Regions from separate parts of the Homo sapiens genome. Here region 1 is linked to region 2. Evidence: fine-mapped expression QTL. A gene starts in region 2. The other region holds a variant in brackets. All regions are shown on one strand. Distances are between the middles of the regions.

Region 1 (4,375 bases), 60 kb before region 2:
CGTTTATAAAATCAGGATGATGACAGTACCTGTGTCACAGATGTTACTTTGAGGCTCACACAAGATAATACACTGAAGGCACCTAACACAGTGTCTGGCACAAAATAAGTCCCCAGTTAACTACATCACAGGAAGCTGGTTGATTTGACCTTCTTTATGAACCATCAGGGACTCAGCCTGTCCCAGGCAGCTAGATTTCCCAACGCAACAAAAGTCGGCTGGGCCTTTGATCTCTCACAAGGAATCACAGCTGAGCTACAGCTCGGAGTAGTTATTTGCTTCCCTGGCCTATACCCCTCCACTCCCCAGAGGCACTGAAGTAGAAGTAGTAAGACCCTGCCTCTTCAGTCTCATTCCCCACCCACCACCCCCTCCCGGCCCCCAAAACAGGCCTGGGCTGTGCAGTTGTCTCAGCATCTCTGGCAGCTGCCCTTGAACAGCAGTGACGCACTCTGTTGTTCTTGCCCAGGCACTTTCAGGGAGGGGAGCAGCTGTGGCTGCCTGGGTTATTGGAAGTCATGGAGCCCCTGTCATGGGAAGAAATGCTCACGTTATCTTCAGGGAGTTTCAGGAGGTTTTTGGCTCAAGGCACCCAACTGTCAGGCACAAAGAAAGCATTGTGTCCCTACCCTCACTGCTCTCCTGTGCCCAGGTTATTAACACAAATTCCATTATTGTCAAGGCTTTGGCTAGAATGGCTTGTTCCTGCTGGGGCTGACCATTAGAACTGAGATGGAGGAACAAAAGCTCCCCCGATCCCGATCCTAACCTTCCACCCAGTCCCCTCCCACTCCCCAGGTCCCATAAAGTGGCGGGAGCATCGTAGCGTAGGAAGAAGCCGCCACACCTTCCTCCATAACCTGGGAGGATGGAAGAGCTCTTCGAAGCTTTGCTCTTCGTGTCCCCCTGAAACAAGGGTTACTGTGAGTCTTGCACACAAGGAACATGCGCTCCAAGGTTCCTAGCCAGGTGGGTGCTCTGCAAAGTTAGGGCAAAGAGAGTCTGGCCACATGCAGCCTCTCCACTGGAGAAGGATTTTCATCTGCCAGGTGGCGGGGCCCTTAGCCTCGTTAATCCTGCTTAATCCTGCTAGAACATACCTACAGGGAGCCCACTTTCCACGCAGAGCATCCCTTGAAGGAGGGGCTTCCCAGAATGCTGAGGATTCTGGGCTTCTCAGACTCCGATCAGATGCACCTCAGCCCTGGGATCAGTGCCCCAGCCCTGCCTGCCAGTTTCCTTTTTCACTTCACCATGAGCATAAGTTTGGGTGGGAACTCAGCCTGTTCATTCACTTCATACTGAGTTCCCACTCTGTGCCAGGGCCTGACCTGTGCACTGCCAAAAGAGCAGGGAACAGCAAAACCCTTTCCTCCCACCGTGGGCCTTGGAGAATGAATGCAGGGGGTGGCCACGGGTAGTCGTCTGGGGCTTGGTTCTCCCTGAGCTAACCTCGCCAGCCTGGCCCAGCTTGCCCTGATCCCCTGATGGTCCGTGCACATGTGTTTATACTTGCATTGTTGACTGGGGTCCAATTGCCTTTTTGGCAAAGGCATCAAGCATTCAAAGATGTTCAGATCTTTTCTGTCTGGCTCTTTTCCTCGGAATGAGGCTCCAGTGTGTCCCTTTAGTCCCTTAGCCATTATCTGAGAGGCTAGAATTCTGGCAGTGTCCCCGTGCATCTTTCCCCAGTGGAGGAGAGAACTCTCGGACCAGTGAGCTAGAGAAGCAACCCACCCCGGCCGCTGGAAGCAGGGGAGGTGAAATGTGTCCAAACTCCTCTCAGGCTGTCAGATGGCCTTGAGCGGCACCAAGTAGAAAACGCGCTCCCACCCCTGACCTTCTCCTCAGCTTCATTGTGAGACCTCAAGTTCCTCAGCTTCCAGGATGATCAACCTAGCTGAAAACCTGAAGTCCCTCCCGGTACAAGTCCAAGCAGTCCCCAGCCAGGGAGACCAGGTGTTGTCTGACATCCCACACACATCGGCACACTTGGGGGATTGCAAAAGGGAGGAAGGGAGCCAAAGGCTAGGGCCCCGGGGTTCAGCTAACACTCAGCACCCCTCCCAAAGAGCGCCCCCTGTGTGTTCTGGATCTCTAGAGGGGTTTGGTTTGGGCCAAGTAGTGCTTAGTTTTAATTTTCTCTTTCTGGAAATAAATACTTTTAATAAGTAAAGATGCTGCTCAGCTGTCATATCCTGCAAGGTTAGAGGAAAGATGTGGGCCGTGCGCGGTGGCTCATGCCTGTAATCCCAGCACTTTGGGAGGCCAAGGCAGGCAGATCACTTGAGGCCAGGAGTTCAAGACCAGCCCAGGCAACATGGTGACCCCATCTCTACCAAAAAAAAAAAAAAAATTCAAAAATTAGCCGGGTGTGGTGGCTCACTCCTGTAGTCCCAGCTGTACGTGGGAGGCTGAGGCATGAGAATTGCTTGAGCCTGGGAGGCAGAGGTTGCAGTGAGCAGAGATTGTGCCACC[G/A]CGCTCCAGTCTGAGCGACAGAGTGAGACTCTGTCTCAAAAAAAAAAGAAGAAGAAGGATGTGTCCAGCAGGCTGGGCACAGTGGCTCACGCCTATAATCCCAACACTTTGGGAGGCCGAGGCGGGGGGGATCACCTGAGGTCAGGAGTTCGAGGCCAGCCTGACCAACATGGAGAAACCCTGTCTCTACTAAAAACACGAAAATTAGCCAGGCGCGGTGGCACATGCCTGTAATCCCAGCTACTCGGGAGGCTGAGGCAGGAGAATCGCTTGAACCCGGGAGGCGGAGGTTGCGGTGAGCCGAGATCACGCCATTGCCCTGTAGCCTGGGTGACAAGAGCGAAACTCCGCCTCAAAAGAAAAAAAAAAAAGTGTGTCTAGTAAAGGGAGCTAGGGCATTATCACAACACCCAAGCATGGGACTCCACCCTTAACCAACATCAGGGTTTCCCTGGCTGCTAGTTTCCTGTGTGCTTGGGGCAGCTTATAGCCCAGGTTTATAGCCCAGCCTGCAGCCCCAAATTGCTCTGGTCTTCCCAGCACCCCAGTGAGCAGGAGAAAAACACAGAAACTAACATTTAGTGAGGACTGCCATGGGCCAGGCACCTTGCAATCTGCTCTACACGCACTGCCTCTTAATCCTCAAAAGGAACCACTGGGGTAGATGATATCAGCTATTTCCTCGTAAGCCACCTAAAGTTGGCTGGGTGAGGTGGCTTAAACCTGTAATCCCAGCACTTTGGGAGGCCAATGCAAGAGGATCACTTGAGGCCAGGAGCTCAAGACAAGCCTAGGCAACATAGCAAAATCCCGTCTCCACTAAAATTTAAAAAATTAGCCAGGCATAATGGCATATGCCTATAGTCCCAGCTATGCAGGAGGCTGAGACAGAAGTATTGCTTGAGCCTAGAAGGTCAAGGCTGCAGTGAGCCATGATGCCACCATCGCATTCCAGCCTGGGCAACAGAGCAAAACCCTGTCTCAAAAAAAAAAAAAAAATGCTTAGTACTATCAAGTCTCCACAGCTAGTATCAGAGTTCATATCTTACCTGTCTCTGCTCATGCCTCTAAACTGCATTCTTCCAGCCCTGCTGGAGAAAACCAGGCTGACACCAAAGTACAGACTTTCAAGGGCCCTGGCGAGGCTCCTTCACACCAAAGCAAATTTCCCACCTGCAGTTACACCAGAGTCTTTCCGTTCCTTTAGCTAAGACTTTGGTTCCTGCAAACTTGTAAATCCCCTGGGACAGGCAACACTTTAAATGCTCATCAAGCATTTGTGCTTTAGTGGGAGTGATTTTTGAATTTTTTTCTTACGAGTAGCTTTTGCTGGATCCTAAGGTAAGTAATGATAAAAATAGTGGGTTCCTGGATGGAGAAAGAGTCTGTTGAAAAGAGGAAGAAAGATTGTAGGATGGGAGGCGGGGGCACCAATGGTGGGTTTTACTTCACAGTTTTGTGGAAGGTTCTAGATGCTAGGATCATAAAGTAAGGAAAAGATCATTTTTTTCCTGCTTCTGGATTTTACAGTTGAAATGAGGAAGGTAAGCTATCTCCATGCAGTGAGTCTGTTGTCATGCCCAGAGAGCCAGAGCTAAGCAGACTCTGTGTTCAACTCTCTCTGGCCTCATTCCTGCTGTCCAAAAGGCCCATCATAGTCAGCAAGTAAATTTGTATCTGGCAGTTGTTTATCTCCACCACCAGGGCCCATGTCTGTTTGAATCACCAGGGTATCCCCAGAACCTGGCAGAATGCATCGCACTTAATAGGTGCTCATACATGTTCGTAGGAATGAATGTTGTTTAAATTTGAAACAAAAAGACCTGAACCAGGACTCTGGATTCTAGCCTTGCATTGCCACCAGAATGTCCTGCATCCTTAGGGAAGTCACTCCTGT
Region 2 (4,375 bases):
ATTAGCTGGGCGTGGTGGCACGCGCCTGTAGTCCCAGGTACTCAGGAGGCTGAGTCAGGAGACTCTCTTGAACCCGGGAGGCAGAGGTGGCAGTGAGCCGAGATCACGCTACTGCACTCCAGCCTGGCAACAGAGCGAGACTCTGTCTCAAAAAAAAAAAAAAAAAAAAAATTAAGAGACTGGAGTCTGGGCTTGCCTGGTGCAGAACCAGAGGCCTGACTTACAGCCCAGGCCTACCTCCCCCGAGCCCTGGTCCCTCCAGAGAACCCCAGAGGAAGAGACAGTCCGAGGCTCCTGCCCTTCCGCTGCCAGACCCTCAGCCTCCTGTAGCTTTCTGCCCCATTCCCAGATGCCATGAGGTGCTCTCTACCCTCCTTCTTGGGGTCCCGCTCCTGCAAACACCCAGGGACCTGAATGACATGAAGGGAGCCGGCTTCTGCCACACCACAGGGCAGGGCAGTTGGAGAAGGAGGGGCTTGGTAGGGCTGAAGAGAGCAGGACAATGTGGGGGTGGCCAGGATGCAAGAGGTGTCTGACTCAGGTTCTAGGCCCGTGCAGAGGGCTCTCCTGGCTCGGGGATCTCCTGGCATTCCCGATCTGTGACTCACTGCAATGCCCCACCCCAGGGAGCCACCTGTTCCCCCTATAGCTTGGCCTCCAGGCCCCACCCTGGCCCCACCTTGGCTTATAGGCTCAAAACCCTAGGAGTAACCCAGGATCGGGCATCTGCCTTCAGTGATGGGGAGGAACAGACAGCCTCTATGAGGAATGAGCCCCCCAAGTCCTCACTTCCAGCTGGGAACTAAACAAAGGCCATGCCCTGTTGGAAGCAGGAGTCCTGGGGATGCAGCCTCGGGCATACCTTTCCCAGAAGGTTCCCCTCTTCAACCCACTTCATGCCCACGCCCTGTGCCCTGCACACTCTTGGGAACCAGTCAAACCCGGGCTTCAAGGTGGCTGGTGCCAGCTCGCCCTGCCCAGCCTGTGACTGCACGCCCAGCCTGGCGCCCACCTTTACCCAACCAGGCATGGGAACACCCCTCAGCCCACCCTGCTGCAGGAAGCAGAGCCCAGGACCTTCTCACCAAGGTGTGGAGAGGGCCCAAGAAGGCCGCTTTAGGGCTGAGCTCTAGCCCATGGGCAGGAGCAAGGGCTGCTCAATACGTGGGGTGGTGGAGGAGGGGGAATGCCACAGGCTCTGCAGAGCGGGAGGCCCTACCGGTCCAGCTGCAGCCGCAGGGGCGAGGGGCTCTGGCGGATCTTGCTCTGGGCCTCGGCATGCAGCATGCCCTCCGCGCTTTCCCCGTTGATGGCCACGATTATGTCTCCAGGCCGGAGGTCAGCGTCCTTGGCTTTGCCCCGCTCGGCCACCTGTAGGGATGAGGAGCTGGCATGCTCAGACCGTGGCCCAGCTGGAGAAGGGACTTCCCACTCTGCTACCCAAGAAACACAGAGGCTGGCTTGACCCAGGCCGGCCTGCACCCTCCTGCATGTCCCTCTGCCTGCTCATGACACCCAGCTGATCAGCCATCCCCTCCAGGAGCGCAGGTGGCAGCCCCCACCCCACACTGGCATTCTAATGGGCCTCCCAAAGAATGTGCAGTGGCAGAATTTCAGGAACTGTGCTTGGAAATACTTTTGGATAGAGAGCCTTGCCCGTGCAAATCGCACCTTGCAGGTGGCTGCCTGCACAGCCCTCCTGTGAATGTTCCCAGCCTGGGCCCAGGTCAAGAGGAGACTGCCAAGAACTCCGGGGCTCTTGTTCTAGTAATCACCCCAAATGGCTGCCTGCAAGTGTGGGGATAGCAACTGGGGAGGCAAGAGCCGGCCCTGTCCTGGTCCCAGCTCCCTTTCACTCCCAAGGTCTGTTCCTGAAGTGGCCACCACATCCCCGTGGCAAAGGGCCACGGCTCCCTTACAGCCAGCACGCCAGGCAGCAGCAGATCCCTAGCTCCAGAACAGAAAAAGCAAGCCATCTGTGCAGAGTGGGGTGAACAGGGCCGACCTCGCTTCTGGCAGGACCTTCTCATCTCTTTGAGCCACCATCCTTACCTTAGTCACCATGATGGGCGTGTGGAAATCCCTGCCCCCTGTGATACGGAAGCCCCAGGGCGCTGGCCCGGCCACATCCACCGTCAACGCCATACCTGAGGAAGAGAGGACCAGGAGGTGAAGTCCATGCCCCTAGCCGGCTCTGGGGGCACTGTAAGGCAGCAGGAGAGGAGCCAAAGGGAGAAGGAGAGGGCACCACAGCTCCCGGAGCAGCTACTCAGGGGCTTTGGGGTGGGTAGAGGAAGTGGCTAACTCCCTCCCTCAGCCCGGTTTCACTTCCCCCCACCCTGGGAAGCCATGCTTCTGGGTTCTCCCTTCCTTAGTCTTCAGCCCAGGGAGCGACTCCCAGGAGGGGGCTGCCCAGGCTGCCAGGCAGGGGGCTTGCTGGAGCATGGGGGGCAGGGGCTGGCAAGTGGAGGGGATGCCAGCACCCCCTCAGTCTCCCCTCCTCCACCATCAGGGCTCAGTCCCACTAGCGCTTGCTTCCTGTCCCCAAAACCCACAGCACACGGTACTTCCTCTCCACTCTGGGGGAGGGCTGGTGAGTGGCCTAGGGAGAGCAGGGCTCAGGAAGCAGGAGTGACGGGTCAAGGAACAGGCTGGCACCAGTACAGACTGTGTAAGTCACTGGCCAGGTGAAGGACTGGTGGGGTGAGGCCGAGTCTTCACATGGGCCTCCTAGCTGCCCACCTCGTTCTTGGCAAAGTGGATCACACGGGCAAGACCGGGCTCCCCACCTCCCCCAGGGGCCGGCTGCCAGGGCAAGGAGGCCAGGGTTCATCTGTCAAGCTGGACACACCCACCCCCAGATTCCTGATGCTGCCCGACAGACAGCCGGGGTGACAGGCCTCCCATCCACAGCCCCTCCGCTGGGCAAGGAAGTGCCCTTGCAGACAGACCCCTGTGGGATTTCCTGAGCCTCTAGCTCTGGAGCCAGGAGCCAATCCAGGCAGGAAGCCGCGGTGCCAGGCTGGGCACCACCCTGCCCAGCACCCATCCTGGGGCTGCCCTGGGGACGCAAGTGCTGCGAGAATCTATCAAGAGCACCAGCGGTCTGTCCGCTCCATCCCCGGCTGCCTTCCCCTTGGGCCCAGGCCTAGCCTCTGTTCCCAGCACCGCCCCCACCCCAGTCCCCGAGGCCGGCTCGCGGCCGCCCCGAGATTCCCAGACCTTTGAGCCGGTCAGTGGACTCCGCGCTGCGGGCGCCGCGGGGAGGTGCCCAGCCCGATGGCCCGGCTCTACCAGTTCTGGAGCCTCCTTCGCTCCGAGGGCAAAGTACCCTGCGGGCTGGGGGCTGGAGGAGGAGCGCTCCGGCCGGGGAGAGCGCAGCTCGCGGGGGCGCCCCCGCTGATGCGAGGCTCCAGGGAGCTGGGCCGCGGACGAGGCCAGGGTTCCGCGCCGACAGGGGCGCGGAGAGGAGCCCGGCGCCGGGGAGGGCGGGCCGCGCGGAGAGGCGCAGGTGGGCGCGCTCACCTGGCTGCCGCTCACCTGTCCGGCTGGGCGCCCAGGCCCGGGAGGGAGGGAAGGCGGGGAGACGCCACCGCTCCCGCTGCCGTCTACCCGACTCTGGGGAGAGCCCGCCCGGGGCTCCCGGACCTGCCTCCGCCCATGTGATCCCGGGGCCGCCCCTGCCGCCGCCCCTAGCCCGAGAAGCCGCCGCCTCCGCGCGGCGAGCCCAGGCGCTGCCACCTGGCCCGAGCCCGCCGGGGGGATGAGGCAGGCTGTCCCCAGGGCCCCCTGCAGGCTGCGACCGTCCAGCCGGTGGTGCCCGCATCCTCCCCGGAGCGCCCGCAAGCCCCCGACTGCCCGGAGCACAGCAGAGCCGGTCCAGGGACTGCCCCGCGCCCCACTTCGCAGACGATCGAGGGGGCAGCCCCATAAAGCTCTCCCACGCCGGCCGCGCTCTCCCGCCCCGCATCCCCAGGTCCTGGGCAGGGTGGGCTGCCTGGGTGTGTCTGCGGTCCGCCTGGCTCCTCCACCCACTCCAGGCTGGGAGGCTGGCGCAGATGCGGCCTTGACACCCACAAATCCCAAACCAAGGCCACCCTCCTGCCCGCCAACTCCCTTCCTGAACGCTGGCTTCTCGGCAGCGCAGAACTTCTCTGCCTGGAATGCCCGCAAAGGGGGACCCGCAGGGGCCCTAGGAGATGGAGAGAGCCTCCTGGCTAGGGGTTCACTGGGCACCCCCACCCCTGGGCTGGTACCTTCCCGTTCCCGTGGGCCCTCACCTCATCCTCTCTGCAGGTCTTCACCCCGCTTCCTGCCCCCTCCCTTGTCCTCTTTCAAGCACCTGAAGCCCAGGCTATAAGGATGAGGAGAGGGC

Which allele goes with the higher level. Alleles are on the strand shown, and positions count from the first base shown. SD is a standard deviation of normalised expression in the study named.
As copies of A replace G in region 1, the expression in monocytes after LPS of the gene that starts at base 2,275 in region 2 goes up (large effect, 1.1 SD a copy in Fairfax 2014).

The links. PIP is the estimated chance that this variant, and not a neighbour inherited with it, causes the effect. A credible set is the group of variants that fine-mapping cannot tell apart.
Region 1: its variant is the best candidate, but not a certain one, in a credible set for the expression of PDLIM2 in monocytes after LPS (Fairfax 2014, PIP 0.83).

The regions. Positions count from the first base shown.
Region 1 is chr8:22,638,336-22,642,710 of GRCh38, reverse strand. The region is part of intron 2 of BIN3 (bridging integrator 3); the gene reads left to right. It overlaps BIN3-IT1 (BIN3 intronic transcript 1), which reads left to right and starts at 502. Exons shown (of 1, transcript NR_027715.1): 1 at 502-2,340. The variant G/A (reference allele first, on the strand shown) is at 2,479.
Region 2 is chr8:22,578,375-22,582,749 of GRCh38, reverse strand. PDLIM2 (PDZ and LIM domain 2) reads right to left here and starts at 2,275. Exons shown (of 9, transcript NM_001368120.1): 1 at 2,053-2,275; 2 at 1,220-1,371. The coding sequence starts at 2,145. RefSeq lists silencers at 380-674, 2,239-2,328, 3,059-3,218, 3,229-3,318, 3,419-3,488 and 1 more and enhancers at 349-1,041, 3,815-4,375.